Regions from separate parts of the Homo sapiens genome. Here region 2 is linked to region 1. The links come from fine-mapping of genetic effects on gene expression. Tissue or cell type: thyroid. Region 1 holds a variant in brackets; the other region holds the start of a gene. All regions are shown on one strand. Distances are from middle to middle.

Region 1 (8,186 bases):
TTGGTCAGGCTGGTCTCAAACTCCTGACCTCAGGTGATCCACCTGCCTCGGCCTGCCAAAGTGCTGGGATTACAGGCGTGAGCCACCATGCTCTGACAAGCCTATTTTTTTTTAAAAGAAAAAAAGAAAAATCAGGCAAACTGGTTGAAAGTCAGTTTAGGGAGTAGTGAGTCCTCCAGACCCCCTACCCCACTCTGCCACTCCGTACAGGCAGGCCTCTTCTCCTCCCCATACCATGGCAGATGATGGGAGATGAATATTCTGGAGGGGTAGAGGGTCTTTGGGCTGGGAGATACTGATGTGGTTGAAGCAGGGACACTCCAGGGGGATTGAGAGCCATAGACATCAAGGGTTCCCAAAGGTCAGGTCAGCAAGGCCCACTCGCAGACACAGAGCTTTTAGAATCCTATTCTTCAATAAAAATGCAAGGACCAACAGAGATATGAGTAGAACACCTAATATGAAAAACAGAAATAAAAACAGACAAAAAGCAACACAGAGGATATTACTAAGCAGATAGAGGAAAACTTAAAAATCACTTATTCTTAAGGAGATGTGATATCGCATTCATGAAATAAGATGAAGTTACAAAAATGAACATTCCAAGAACAAAATGAGGTCTTAGAAATTAAAAATATGGGCCGGGCGCGGTGGCTCACGCCTGTAATCCCAGCACTTTGGGAGGCCGAGGCGGGTGGATCATGAGGTCAGGAGATCGAGACCTTCCTGGCTAACAAGGTGAAACCCCGTCTCTACTAAAAATACAAAAAATTAGCCGGGCGCGGTGGCGGGCGCCTGTAGTCCCAGCTACTCGGGAGGCTGAGGCAGGAGAATGGCGTGAACCCGGGAAGCGGAGCTTGCAGTGAGCCGAGATTGCGCCACTGCAGTCCGCAGTCCGACCTGGGCGACAGAGCGAGACTCCGTCTCAAAAAAAAAAAAAAAAAAAAAAAAAGAAATTAAAAATATGATAGCAGAAATGAAAACTACAGCAGGAAGGCTGGAAGTCAAAGAGATTTTCCACAAAGTACAGCAAATAAAACAGCAGCAAACGGAAACAGAAGAGAAAAAATAAAATTAGAGGACCAGTTCAGGAGGTCCAACATCTAAATAATAGGAGGCCTATAAAGAGAGAATCAGGAAAGAGAAAACTCCTAAGTAACTTAAAACCATGCCCCAGAATTGATCAACATGAGTTTCTATCTTGTCTAACTGAATGGGTCAAAGTGTGTGTAAAAATGTACCTTCACCAAAGCACATCATCAAGGAATTCAGAACATGGCAGACAAGAGACGATCCTACAAACACCTGGAGCACATTAAAAACAGTATTGGAATGTACAACACTGTCATAGAAAATAATGGAACATTGCCTTTGAAGCTCTAAGAGAAAATTGTTTCCAAGCTAAAATGCCATGCTCTGCCAAACTATTAATTAAGTGCAGGATAAAAACATGTTGAGACATGCAAATTCCCAAAATGCAGCTCCACTCACCACTTCTCACAATAGGGGGGTGAAGGATGTGTTCCACCAAAAACAAGAAAAGGGAAGCAGAGGATGGGCATAAGGAAGAGGTTAGAGGACCCCAACCCGGGAGGAAAGAGCTACGAGGCCAGAACAAAGAAGGCAAAGGCTCTGGAAGGGAGTTCCCGCAGAAGATGAAACTCACAGAATGCCTGACATGTGAACACACTGGTGAGATCTAGTGTACTATGGGGACGATTTGGGGTTGAATCCCTAATATGATAATAAAGAGAACTAAGCAAAATGTTGAAGGAAAAGTAATAATAACATACTATGTGGTTTAGCTGTACATGACAGTTAGTCTTAATAATGAAAACACAGAATCCTAATTTAACCAAAAGGATGGTGTAACCGTATTGGGAGTAGGGGAGACAGGCAGGGATTGCTGGGGGAAGGTTACAAGGGGGTGAGCGGGTGAAAGGGATTGAATCCACGTCTCATGGAGTGTGGGCTTAATGAGTACCTGAAACTGAAAAATCAAAAAGTAGCAATGCAAGTCTCTTTTCAACCCATATGATGCTGAAAATCAAAAGAATCCTCTAGAAGAACTGAAAGTGGCTGTGTCTAGGGAGCAGGCAGGAGAGGCAGGGGCAGTCAGGATGCTCCTGCCTTTCTTAGTAAGCTCAGTGGAACCAACTGATGATGCTCTCAACCCGGTCCGGAGCTCTCTGGGTTGTCATTCCGTGCTTACTCATCTGTGTGTCCTCCAGAAGGTGAGAGCCACTAGGACAGGGACCAGACCCCTTCATCCTGTGGCCCACCACCTAGCCCAGAACCTGGCGGACTGCAATTACACATTTGTGGAATGAATCATTGCAGGTTCAAGCTAGAAGAGAACTTTCATTGCAACCCTATCATTTTACAGGTTAGAAAACTGAGGCCCACAGAGTAGAAATGACATGTTCCCCAATGCTCAGGTGGTGAGTTAGACAAGCAGCTCTCTTGGGGAGAGGACTTAAAGAGAGAGAACAGAGAGAACAAGAGGAGGGAAGATGAAGCCATCCAGAAGGAGGAGGTATTAGAGAGGCTCAGGTGGCTCCTAACGGAATTGTGTAACATCGCCCAAGCCTCTCAAGAGAACAGCATTCCACAGAAGAGGAGGTAGCCACCTGGGGCCCACCAGGGGACTCCTCCCTCTGAGGCCCCACTGGAGCTAAAAGTTTAAGAACACACCCCATGGCTGCAATCCAGGGCTCAGGAAGCTGCTACTGCTGCCCCAAACCCTCCTGTCAACACCCAGCAAACTCCAGAATGGATCCTGGAATGTTGTTGCAGAAACACTTCACATCTCCACCACCTCACCTGGGAACAAAAGCTGCGAAAGGGGCAAGAAAGTGGCCTCTGCTTTGCTTCTGCCTTCCAAACACCACCAAAGGTATGACATTATCTACCTAAATCCTTATGGAAAGGAAGTTTTGAACAATGCTGCTTTCAGTGTTCCAACATTTCCGGGGAAGTATGGACCAGAGATTGAACGACACTTCAGATTCTACCACACCCTCTGTTGTATTCATGCCTTCCCTTCCATCTGAACCTCTGTCCCAGGCAACTGCTCCAGAAACTTCCCTTTTCTTCTGAGGCCTCCGAAGGAATGCCCGCCAGCACACTGGTAAATTCATGCAAAAAGATGCCCAGAGGGGCCCCTAGTCAACCAGTTCTGCATATAGCTCAACTCGGAGTCCCAGTGTGGCTTAGCGAGGACACCCTGCTTGACTTGCTTGGGGACATATTAGCATGCTGAACAGTCAAACTTATCCCTCCCCTCTCACCCAC[C/CAG]AGAGAGCGTCCAGCTAATCCAGAGGGAGGAGGGATTTCAGGGTCAGCTTGGTGACCCAAGAAGCATGTTGGGCGGGATGCCTGAGTCTGAGACAGAAAAGGCTGAGGGGAGCCGAGAGTTCAAGAGAAAGGAAGCAGATGACGCTTTCCCCAAAGGGAGTCTGACGTGATCCCTCAGCTCATGGAATCCAGCGGTTACCCTTCTGAGCCTTGGTTTTCTCATCTGTAAAGTGGAGCTGGAGATAACACTCTCATAACACAAATAAATGATAAATGATTGAGATGATGGATATGCTAATTATTCTGATTTGATCACTACACATCATATGCATGTATCAAAATATCACTCTGTATCCAGTAAATATGTACAATTATTACATGTCAACTAAAATTTAAAAACTACAACAAAGAAATGTTTATTTGTGCAGTTTCTACGCCAAAAACTCCTCAAACTTCAAACAAGAACGTGACCAATTTTATATGATCATATCAAACAGTCTCCCTTATTTTTAGAGCAGAATGAGTCAATGGATTTAATTTAGCAAATGGCCGGGGCGGGGGATGTTTAAAATAATTTTATTATAAAATTTTCATATTAAAAAAAGATAACACTCTCATAGGAATGTTGTGGGGAACATTGTGTTGTAAAAAAATAACACTTGGAAAGCTCTACAAAGTGCAAAAATCACTTTCAAATGTGGTGACTTAAAACAGCAGCTAGAGCCGACCTGTCCGGGAGGTGAGGGGCGCCTCTGCCCGGCCGCCCCTACCGGGAAGTGAGGAGCCCCTCTGCCCAGCCAGCCGCCTCGTCCGGGAAGGAGGTGGGGGGGTCAGCCCCGGCCAGCCGCCCCGTCTGGGAGGGAGGTGGGGGGGTCAGCCCCCGGCCCGGCCAGCCGCCCCGTCCGGGAGGTGAGGGGCGCCTCTGCCCGGCCGCCCCTACTGGGAAGTGAGGAGCCCCTCTGCCCGGCCAGCCGCCCCGTCCGGGAGGGAGGTGGGGGGGACAGCCCCCCGCCCGGCCAGCCGCCCCACCCGGGGAGGTGAGGGGCGCCTCTGCCCGGCCGCCCCTACTGGGAAGTGAGGAGCCCCTCTGCCCGGCCACCACCCCGTCTGGGAGGTGTACCCAGCAGCTCATTGAGAACGGGCCATGATGACAATGGCGGTTTTGTGGAGTAGAAAGGGGGGAAAGGTGGGGAAAAGATTGAGAAATCGGATGGTTGCCGTGTCTGTGTAGAGAGAGGTAGACATGGGAGACTTTTCATTTTGCTCTGTACTAAGAAAAATTCTTATCCTGTTGATCTGTGACCTTAACCCCAACCCTGTGCTCTCTGAAACATGTGCTGTGTCCACTCAGGGTTAAATGGATTAAGGGCGGTGCAAGATGTGCTTTGTTAAACAGATGCTTGAAGGCAGCATGCTCGTCAAGAGTCATCACCACTCCCTAATCTCAAGTACCCAGGGACACAAACACTGCGGAAGGCTGCAGGGTCCTCTGCCTAGGAAAACCAGAGACCTTTGTTCACTTGTTTATCTGCTGACCTTCCCTCCACTATTGTCCTATGACCCTGCCAAATCCCCCTCTGCGAGAAACACCCAAGAATGAACAATAAAAAAAAAAAAAAAAAATTCAGGCCAGGTGCAGTGGCTCATGCCTGTAATCCCAGCACTTTGGAGGACTGAGGTGGGCAGATCACCTGAGGTCAGGAGTTCGAGACCAGCCTGGCCAACATGGTGAAACCCTGTCTTTACTAAAAATACAAAAAAAATTGGCTGAGTATGGCGCACACCTATATTCCCAGCTACTCAGGAGGCTGAAGCACGAGAATTGCTTGAAGCTGGGAGGTGGAGGTTGCAGTGAGCTAAGATCACCCCACTGCACTCCAGCCTGGGTGACAGAGTGAGGTTCCATCTCTAAATAAATAAATAAATAAAATAAAAATTTCAGCCCAATATATTAGGAACCCCATTTTAAATGCCACTGTAAACACAATTTATTTTATATCAACTTTAAATATGAAAGCTACACTCAAGTAAACCAAACAGCATATTACCTATGAATCTTTACATGTTCATTTAAAAATTTCAGCCCAATATATTAGGAACCCCATTTAAAATGCCATTGTAGTAAATGACAAGTTAGTAGAAAAAAAAAAAAACAGCAGCTAGGCTGGGCGTGGTGGCTCACGCTTGTAATCCCAGCACTTTGGGAGGACAAGTTGAGAGGATCACCTGAGGCCAGGAGTTCGAGACCAGCCTGGCCAACATGATGAAACCCCGTCTCTACTAAAAATACAAAAATTAGCCGGGCGTGGTGGCGGGTGCCTGTAATCCCAGCTACTCAGTAGGCTGAAGCAGGAGAATCCCTTGAACCCGGGAGGCGGAGGCTGCAGTAAGCCGAGATAGCGCCACTGCACTCCAGCCTGGATGACAGAGCGAGACTCCATCTAAAAAAACAAAAACAAAAACAAAAAAACAGCAGCTACCCATTATGTTTTGGCTGGCATTGCTCATTTGTTTGCATTCAGCTGGCCATTCAGCTGGGGTGGCTGGAAGGGGTGGAGGCTGGCTGACCTTCTTTCTCGAGCAGGGTGGACTGACTTCTTGTATGGTGGCCCAAGGCTCCAAGAGAATACAGGCAGAAGCAGCCAGGCCTCTTAAAGCCCAGGCTGGAACTGACACTGCAACACTTTTGGTGCGTTCTGTTGGTCAAAGCCAGTTCCAAGGCCAGCCCAGAATCAAGGGGAGGGGAAACAGCCTCTACCTCCTGGTAGGAGGAGTGACACGACCTAGGGAGAGGAGAAATTGTGGCTGTCTTTGAAAACAGCATACCCGGCATGTAAGTTTGGACAAGTGGTGGAAGCCTGGCTTGCCCAACTGGACTAGCACCCTCTCCCAGACTTTCCCAGACCACGCTGACTGTACCACTGGGGTCCTGAAGATGATTTGGTGGACCTTGGGAAGCAGCAAATTTGCATTTTGAATTCTCTTTCAATTCTTCTGACACCATCAAAGAGAATCATCTCAGCCTAGTGCAGCCTATCTGCAACGGCTCTCAAGCACCAGTGAATCGCTGGGTCAGAATTTAGCAGCATCTGGCAGCAAAAGTATTAAAATGTAGCACCTTGCTTTGTTTCCCCAGCATGCATTTTTAAGATTGCCAAGTGACACTGGCTTTCCATTCCTGAAGGCAGTAGGGAGTTAGCTAAATAAAGAGAGCCACTTCAACACAGGCATCAGAGCCCAAGGGCTGCTCAGCTCCAGGCTACAAGCTGTCTTCTGATAACACCCCTTTGTCCCCAGAGAAATAGTCAATACCCGCAGACCTCACACCCTTAATCTGTCCTCTTTACCACCCTCACCCATCAAACATTTCCTCCTCAATATTAAATTCCAGCCCCACAGAGCTTTTGTGGCATATTTGCAAGCCTCTTCCAGAAACTTCTCCATGCTGTACTCTCCCCAAACACTCTCCCCACTCTCTCTTCCCATGGAGGGTGGTGCAGTGGGTCCTGGGGCCAGAACACATGGGTAAAGTCCTGGGTCTATCACCTGCCGGGCACACCCCACCCCTCACATTTGCAGCCCAGGGCAAGAGTGCAAAGGAGCCTCCCAAAGGAGGCGTCTTGATAGTTAAGGGTTACAAATAAAGCTGTCCACCCATTACATAAACTATGTCCCAGCTTCCTAGCTGGCAAACATATCTTCCTAGTAACCAAAAAATACGTGTGTGTGTGCACATGCACCTGCAGAGCTAGGTTTTCATATGATAAAAGATAGCAAAATATAACAGTAATTGAATTTATTTATTTATTTATTTATTTATTTATTTATTTATTTATTTATTTATCGAGACAGGGTCTCACTCTGTTGTGCCAGGCTGGAGTACAGTGGTGTGATCTCAGCTCACTGCAACCTCTGCCTCCCCGGTTCAAGAGATTCTCGTGCCTCAGCCTCCCAAGTAGCTGGGACTATAGGCATGTGCCCCAACACCTGGCTAATTTTTGTATTTTTAACAGAGATGGGATTTTATCATGTTGGCCAGGCTGGTCTCAAACACCTGGCCTCAAGTGATCTTCCTGCCTTGGTCTCCCAAAGTGCTGGGATTACAGGTATAAGCCACGGCTCCGAGACTAAAATCACCGAATTTAATTAATACTGCATGTCTGTGGGTCCTCTTGTTGGGCTGTCAATGTTTGGATGAAAAATCAATAAAACATCTGTGATTCATGAGGTATAATATTGTCTTCTGTAACATTTCTTTTTCATGCTTTCATTTCAGTAAAATCAGGTATGTTTTTATAATCAAGATTTTCACGTAATTTATTAATAGTAATAATATAAAGATTAAAAATAAAATAATTGTGTTCAAAATATACATTTAAATGTATTATTATGAATGCATTTAAAGTAAATGTAATAAAATCAAAAATTAGAATCATTTACTTTAAAATATAAATTTTTTATTTTAAAATATTCAGCATTATCTATTACAATTGAAAAGGAAAAAATACAAATTATAATTGGTGAATACCAGTTAATTATTTGTCTGTACATGAATATCACACTGTAATTTTATGGTAAGTCTTGAAATCAGTTAGTGTTAGTCCTCCTATATATATTTAATAGAAACAGGGCCTCACTATGTTGCCTTATCTCAAAGTCCTGGGTTCAAGTGATCCTCCCACCTCCACCTTCCGAAGTGCTGGGATTAGCATCAGCCACCGTGCCCAGCCCATTTTTGAAAGGTGTTTTCACTGAGTATAGAAACCTAGCTTGACAATTTATTTTTTCTTTTGGTACTTTAAAGATATCTTCCCATTGTCCTATGGCTTCTTGCCATATATGTCCTATAGTTTCTTGCGAGAAATATATTGTCATTCTTTTTCTTTGTTTCT
Region 2 (8,151 bases), 21 kb after region 1:
ATAACAGAAATGTTGCCCTTTGAAGCTTCCCTCCCCTGGGGAGGGACGTGGTGGGCAAGAGTTCCCATTTGCTGACAGCCAACGCCTTTGCCACGTTTAAACAGGAGAACTAAAGGCTTGGAGAGTTCAAGTGATTTGCTCAAAATCACATAGGGTGGTAGAAGTGATTGAGCCAGGATGCAAATTTGGTCTCCATGACACAGATCCAAGCCCCATTCTTCCTATATACCCTGCCAAGTTCCTGGTACCCCAACACAATGAGACAGAGGAGGGATGCAGAGGGCCATGTCCCTATCTTCAGCAACTAGCTTGGGGAGGGGGGCAGCACATGAAAGAGAACATCACAGTCCTTTCTACACGCTGAAGGCCATGCCTGGGATTGGGGTGAGTGCTGTGTTTGGCTTCAGAAAACATGGTCCAAGTCCCAGCTCCACCCATTACTAGTGGGTAAGTCTCTTCACATCACTTCATTGTACCTCAGTTGCCTCATCTGTAAAATGGGGTTAATAACTATGCTGACTGTTGTAGGCATTAAAGGAAATAACAAATCTAGAAGTATCTGGCAAAGGCTCGTCATATAGAACACGCTCAACACATGACCGCTGAAATTGACACGCCACCGTCATCCTCCATCACCAGGGGTAGCAGGGAGGGCTAGAATCAGGCATGGGGCCCAGAGCACCCTTCATCCTACTGCACATTCTTTTCTTCAGGAAGGGGGAGGGTTAGAGCCCCATTCTCTGCTCAGTGCCCATCCGAGATGGGGGTAGAAAGAAAGAGCTGGGGGCTCTCAATCCCCACCCAGCAGCTTCTCCTCACCCCACACAAACACGCCCCAATTTATGCATCCCTCTTCCGGGAGGGTCCCATTCTCCCAGTGTCCTGACCCCATTCTCCAGGCACTGAGACCACAGTTGTGGTCCAGCTGCAGAAGCCAGCCCAGCAGACTGGCCCTCTGCCAGAGACAGGAAGTGGGGGAAGAGCTGTGCGTTCTGCTGGCCACCAAGGAGGGGTGGGCGCCAGAGGCTGGAGCTGGGCCAGACCTTGTGGTCTTGCGGAATGAACTGCAAGGGAGGAGTTGTGAGCTGGCCTGCTCCACTTTGAAGGGTATTGTGAGGGGCAGAGCCCGTGCAAGGCAGTTCTGTCCCCTTTGTTGCCTGGAAGGCTCTGGGGTGGAGAGTGGGGAATAAGCCCTGGAAGGCAGGAAAGAATACTGAGGTGGGAGTCTGGAAAGTTGGGATTTGGTAAGGTTTTGCCACTAACTCACTACATGACTTGCATTAGCTCTTTCCCCTCTCTGGCCTCTGTTTTCCAACCTCTGAAATTGGAAAATGTATTGCACTCTCTGTGGCAGACACATCTCTAGGGAATACACTAGTAGACAAGCCAGTCCCTGCTCTCAGGGCCTTTCACTCTACCAACAGATGAGCAAATATAGAATAGGCCAAGTGCTGAAAAAGTCTGGGTAGAATAATAAAATGGTGTTGGGGGCAGAGAGTGAGAAGTCTGGGACGGCCTCTCTTAGAAGCTGACATAAGCAGAAGAAACGAGGAAAGGGCCAATGTGGGTATCTAGGGGATGCACATTCTGGGCAGAGGAAAGAGCAAGGGCAAAGGCCCTGAGGCGAGAAGGTGCCTGGCAAATTAACCGAGAAAAGGAAGTAGCATGGCTGGCAGGGAATAAGTAAGGGGAGATGAGGGCCAAGGCAGGTGGGGCCCAGTTCATGGAGACTGAGGGACTTTGCGCTTTATTCTGAACTGATCGGTGGGCCCCGGGGAAGCTGGGCCTGGGCTTGGGTGCAGAGCCCACTTGGTGCTGTGCATATGTGTGTGTGTGACAGTGTTGGGTGGGGGAACACCTTTGATCTCCCCTCATTTACCCTGGCTTCCTGGACAGGTCCTTCAGGAAGAGACAATAACAGGGCCGGGTCTAGGGTGAGGCATGTGAAACCTGGAGTGAATGAGGCACTTGGCTCAGGTTCAAAACTTAAGGGGGCATCAAAAAACTCAGTAATTAAGATAAAACAATATTTTCCTGCAATATGTATAAAAATCCAAATTAATGCCAAAAAGTCTATGATAAACAAAATGCCAACATTTTAGATAAAGACAGGATCTGACCCTGAACTTGCGTGATTAATTACCTTAATCCTGGTCCTGTTTCCAATACAACTTTATTTAAAAAAAACAAGGCAGCTGGCCCAAAGAACTGTAGTTTGCCCATTTGGTATATTAAAATATTGCCTTAAAATATTCCTCATCAGTCTGGGCACGGTGGCTCATGCCTGTAATCTCAGCACTTTGAGAGGCCAAGGCAGGCAGATCACTTGAGGTCAGGAGTTCCAGACCAGCCTGGCCAACACGGTAAAACCCCGTCTCTACTAAAAAAAATTAGCCAGGTGTGGTGGCAAGCACCTGTAGTCCCAGCTGCTTTAACTTGGGAAGTGGAGATTGTAATGAGCTGAGATCTCACCACCACACTCCAGCCTGGCGGACAGAGCAAAATCCTGCCTCCAAAAAAAAAATTCCTTATCTTGGCATCCCCGAAATCTTGCACACCAGGTGAGTGTCTCACTTACCTCACCCCAGTCCTGGTCCTGGGCCCCAGTGCTCATCCCTCCTGAGGCTGAGAGGCAAAGGGATTTCCCCAAAGAAATATAGTAGATGGTGGGTCTGGAAACTGGGCTCCCATGCCAGGCCTCCAGCCTGGCCATCATATCCTATCATGCTCTGAACTGGAATGTTGATTTTAATGTGTTGATTTTTAAAAACTTTTTATTCAAGTATAATAGTCATACAAACAAGTGCCTGCATCATAAATGTTCAGCTTGCTGCATCCTTACAAAATGAGCACACCTGTATAACCAGCATGCGTGATTAAATTTAAAGCATAATTTACATTTCCAACAAAACAGACATTAGTACTGGGCCAGATTCAGAGGACTTTTGAGATCAAGCAGGCGACTTGGAATAGTAAGGCTCCGGGACTGAGCTGATGCAGAGTTTAGGGGCCCTGGATTGAGACGAGAAAGCAGGGGGAGGGGTGCAGCACTGAGGTCTGGGGTTCGGGAGGGGGCCCTATACGCGGGAGGAAACGGAGAGAGACGGTGAGGATTGCCTTCGGAGGTGGGTGAGGCCCAGCGTGCGCGCCCAGGTAAGCAGGTAAGAATGCAGCAGCCGCCAGGCCCAGGCGCGGGCGCGTCCCGTCCGGGTGACTCAGCCCGTGCCAGGAAGCGGGAGTTGGCTCAGCTCTCCAGAGCTCCCGGACAGCAGCCGGATCCCGGCCGGCTCCTGGGGCACTAGGACAGACCCCCGCGGCTAGCAGCCCGGCCTGGGGGGCGGAACACTCTCTTCTTGTCCCGCCCCACCTTCCTCCGGGCCGCAACCACCCCAGCCCATCGCTGGGACGTGGCCGCGGGTGCCGAGAGCGCTGCCGGCGCCGTGGGGGCCATCCCGGTCCTGGCCCCGACGGCGCCCCAGGACCTGCGATAGCCGTAAGTAGCGACTATGGGGGCTAGGAGAGTCCAAGAAGTGGGGAGCTGGGACGCCCGGCCTCCTGCGTCCCAGCTCTCCACTTCCAGACCCGGCTGGACTCGGGACTAGAAAAGGTGGCCTGGTGCCGCCGCTGCCTTCCAGTGTGCTCACTGGCCCTCGTGGCGGGGAGCCCAGACGCGGCTCCTAGGCGGCCCTAGACAAGTACGGCCGAGACGCTGTCACCCCAGGGGGCTGCCCCACCTGAGCATCATCCCACGGGCCCGCCCAGCCCCACCTGGAGAGCCGCAGGCTCCAAAGTCTTCCCCATTCTCGGGGACCAGGTTCCGGGGTCGCGCTGAGGGCCCCTGAACCCTCTTGGACTGCCTGGCAGCGGCTTCTTCCTACCACCACGGCTCACCATCCAGACGCGCCGCCCGGCTGGCCCCACCGGGAGAGGCTCCCTCCCTCCCCTTTCTCCCCGAACCCTCATCTTAGAAGCCCTCGGATTCAGTCTGGATCCCAAAGAAGGGCTGAATTCGGAGGACCTCTCTTTGCCCCCAAAGTCGGTTTTCTGACACACATTCCCACGCACAGCTGGTAGGGGCAGGAGGGTCGAGGATGCTCTGGGCTGCTGCGGCACAGGGCAGGCTGGTTGGTCACTAACCGGATTTCCCGGACAGACAACTCTGGCGCTGTGGGCGGGTGGCCTGGGAGCCCAGATCCCTGTCCCTGGCTTAGGACCCCGGGAGGAGACCGAGGGGGTGGGTAAAACGTGACTGAGAAACTTGATCGCGCCCATCTTTGGGGCAAAGAGATTTGGAGGCCGCAATTATTCAGACAGTTCCACGAAGTGGTTGAGGTTTCTCTCTTTCTCCTGATTTTCCAGAAACTTTTGCAGAGTTTGGACAGGCAAAGGAAAACGTGCAGCCCGCGGATCTCCGGGCCTCAGAGAGCAGGGAGTCGGGGAGACTGAGGCCCCGCTCCGAGAGCGCGGAGGAAGCGCGCCCAGCCGGCTTCCTGTGGGGGCTCGGGCCTCGGGCGCCCCGCGGACAGACGTGTCCGGCTCCTGGCTGGGCCAAGCCCGGCGCGGGGGAGGGGACCCGCAGAGGGGCGACTGAGAAGGCGAGGAGGGGGCGGGGAGAGGGTGGGCCAGGGAAGAGGGGAGGGGAGAGGCGAGTAGGGGAGGAGCGAGGGGGGCTGGAGGGAGAGAAGGAAGAAGGAAGGGGCGAACGGCGTGAGCTGGCGCCGAAATGGGAGAAAGCAGCGAGTGAGAGGGGAAGGGGCGCCAGGCGAGCACCCGGGAGCCAGCGGGACCTGGGCAGGGGCGCCCGGAGCAGGCGCGCATGGCGGGCCCCGCGCGGGGATCCGGCTGGAAGAGAGCGTAGCACGGCTCGCACGAGTGAGTGGACGTGGGAGGCGCGCATCTGCGGGGGAATCGCCCCTTGCCCGCCTCCGGCGCCGCCCGCTGAGCCCTGTTTTCCGCAGGTCCGGGGCCGATGTACCAGGTGAGCGGCCAGCGCCCCTCTGGCTGCGACGCGCCCTATGGAGCCCCCAGCGCAGCCCCGGGCCCAGGTAGGACCGGGAGTGGCGAGCGAAGCTGGACAGGGGCGGGTGGGCGGCTGAAGGGGCCAGTTATTAGTTCTCCTCTCCGTCCCCAGACGCGGGGAGACCGTTCCAGGGAGCTTGGTGGGGGTAGGGACGAAAAGTCTGGGTTTGAGGACTTGGTCCAAGGAGAGTAGGGGGCTGGGCGAGGGAGGCAGGGCCCTGAACAGAGGCTGCGGCTGCGCCAAGTTGGCTCCAACTCCCCGCAACTCCCGACACCAGACACACACACACACACACACAAACACACACACATACACTCCGCGGTGTCTGTCCGTCTGGGATTTGTGTCTCAACTGTTTCTGCCCAGTGTGTAAATATTTGTGGGGGCCTGGTGTGGGGGAGGGGGCGTTGTCTGAATCTTTCTCTACTTCCCTTCCCCCAGCCCAACCAGAGCCCAGCGCTTCCCGAAAACTTTTGTCTGCCGCGAGCGGCTGCAGGACCCAGCCCCTCCCCTCTTTCTTGCCATCCCTTCTCCCTCGCCTTCCTTCCCTCTCGTGCCGGCCAGTCCCCGCCGCCCCTGCCCTGTGCACACACACGCACCCCAACCCAGTGTCTTCAGCCCAAGTGAAATGCCCCGTCCCGCGCCTGGCGCCGTCTGTAACCTACCCGCGATTCCTGGGGGAGCCTCTCACGCCAAGTACGGTTTGTGACTCCCTGAAGGGGTTTGGAGTAGGGGCCTCGCCGGCCCTGGTTCTCAGTCCCTTCCCCTCACTGGCCAGATGCCTAAGCCGAAGCTCCCAAATGGAAGTCCGGGTCAAGGAGAAGTCAGGAACCTCTGGGATGTGTTCAGGGCCAGGGGAACCGCGTGCAGGAGTGTGGACCCGGATTTCATAATTGGAATCTCCACTGTCTAAGTCGTTGCCTTCCTCCCCACCAGCGCCATTCCCCCTTTCCCCTCTTTGACTCTGAATAATGAAGGTCTGTTCCTGAACCTCTGACACGAACTCCCTGCCTTGCCTTGGACAAGCTCCTTCCCTTCTCTGGCCTGAGCCTCCACATGCGCCCTCGAAGCCGGCCTGCCTGCCTGTTCTAGGAGGCCCCTCTCCACTCCCCACCTACTTGGTATGGACGCCTAGTTGTGGAGGTGGGGGGTCCTCTAAACCAGAGTGAGGACAAGTGGAAGATGTCTGGCCAACAGCCAGCACATAGATGAGGCCAGTGTGTCTACAGCCCATCTTGGCCAAGCCTCAAATTGCCTGCTGTCTCTGTGGGGCCCCTGCAACGGGGCCTTCTGCAGGATGAGCGCCTCCAAGAATTGGACTCCTTCAGCCCGGAGGGACAGCTGGGGGCAGGGCACTTGGAAGGGTCCTTCTCTGTGTCTGGGAACCTTCCCTGTCCCGCTGGGCCTCCTTCCTGCCTCCTCCCTTCCTCAGCCTCCTGCTCTCCCATCCTCTTACTCTCTCCAGCTTTCTCCCTCCCCTTATCCATTTTCTCTGCTCTCCCTCCACTACCTCCTTCCAAGATCCCCTTCCTTGTTGAAGCCATTCTCAGCTCCAGCAGCAAGAGGAGAGGGCTAACTGCACACAACCGGGGCCAGCGTGGGCAACTGGGAGGGTTAAGCTCTGGGCTGTAACTTGAGGCCCCCCAGCACCCCAGCAGACCCCCTCCCCAGCCTGGGCTGGGCCAGACAATGCGGCTTTCATAACTCAAGGCTTCGCTCTGCCACCGCCTTGGGAGAATGAGCCTGCTGCCCAGGAAGCCCAAACCGCAGGAGACCCAGCCAAAACCCCACAGATGCCTGAATTTGAGACCAGAATCCCCCACGCTTTACTCCCTGAGTGCTGACAGAACAGCAAGGCCACAGCGCTGCCCCAGGGGCTCTGCTGGCAGGACAGCCAGGGAGCAAGTCGGCCTCCTCCCTCAGCCACCCCAGATGCAGACAGGGCACAAGGGGACTCAGGGCAGATCTGGTAGGGGCAGGTGGCCAAGCCCCCACACCCTTGGCTCTCCTAGTGGCCTCCTCCCCACCCACCCCTGAGAGCCCCGGGAGCCTGGCTCCCTAGCCCACAGGCACATTTTTGCCCAGCATTGGGGCGTCACATTCCTGTTCATGGTTCTAAATTGAATTTCCTGGGGATTTGGAACCTTCAGACCTAAAATAAAACCAACTTGTCCCAGACTAACTGGCCAGCTCAGGCCCTCTTTAGTTTTCAGCTTGGTGGCCTGGGAGTGTGACCATTGGATTCGCATCAACCATGTGTGCATCAAAGGAGTCCACCCTCTCTGACTTTCTTGGGGTTCAGGTCCAGGTGCCACCCCTAGTCTTCATTTCTTTCTCTTTCTCCTTCCCCTGACAGGGGCATTCCAAACTCCAGAAAGTACTCCCCAGTAGGCATTTGCCGAGTGCCCCCTGGGGATGCAGAGATGAATATGGACACCACTCCAAGGGAGTGAGTTGGGAGGGCTGTAGTCTGGTTGAGAAGCCGGGATTTCACTAGCAAATTGTAATTAACAAGAGGGAACACTGGAGCTAAATTCTTAGCAACTGGGTCAGAGAAAGCTGTCTAGAGGAAGAGGTGAAGTTTGAGCTTGGTCCAGGATGAGTTGGGTTTGGAGAGTGGGAGGGGTAGGATCTTCTGGTCAACAGGAATAATATAAGCATGGGTGGACTGGTCAGAAGATCCGGCAATGGCCCAGACCATGGGGAGGCCGGTCTGCGTGGAACACAGGATCCTGGTACATTGATAGATTGAAGGTCCGGACTGAGGCCTTGAATGCCAAGCCAAGGAAAGATTGAGGTGTGGGGTTCCAGCCACCACTCTCTGACCATATGAGGTTCTGGCCTTCCCTCTCCAGAGACGGTCAGAGTTCCAAGTGGGAAGCCCAGATCCACGGTCCACAAAGACAATGACGAGGGCTAAACTTAAGGCAGTAGGCCGTGGAGCTCTGGAACACAGGCCTCTCTCCACACCAGCCAGGGATTTTTTGGCTGAAACTCCCATGGGCACTGTGCAGGCTTGAAACCATCCCACCGGAAAGAGGTTCCCCCCTACTCCCTGTTGGTCCAGGACCACCCCTCAACTTGGTGGATGGCAAGCAGAGAGAACCCACAGAGTCCTTGCTGAGGGTGTGA

Evidence for each region. PIP is the estimated chance that this variant, and not a neighbour inherited with it, causes the effect.
Region 2: MDFI starts here. The variant in region 1 is fine-mapped to the expression of MDFI in thyroid (GTEx, PIP 0.92).

The regions. Positions count from the first base shown.
Region 1 is chr6:41,612,281-41,620,466 of GRCh38, forward strand. No RefSeq gene overlaps it. Among named protein-coding and RNA genes, the nearest start is that of MIR4641, 18 kb to the left of the region's middle. The variant C/CAG (reference allele first, on the strand shown) is at 3,295.
Region 2 is chr6:41,633,781-41,641,931 of GRCh38, forward strand. It overlaps MDFI (MyoD family inhibitor), which reads left to right and starts at 4,688. Exons shown (of 5, transcript NM_005586.4): 1 at 4,688-4,872; 2 at 4,959-5,045. The coding sequence starts at 4,970. RefSeq lists enhancers at 466-966, 967-1,467, 6,761-7,341.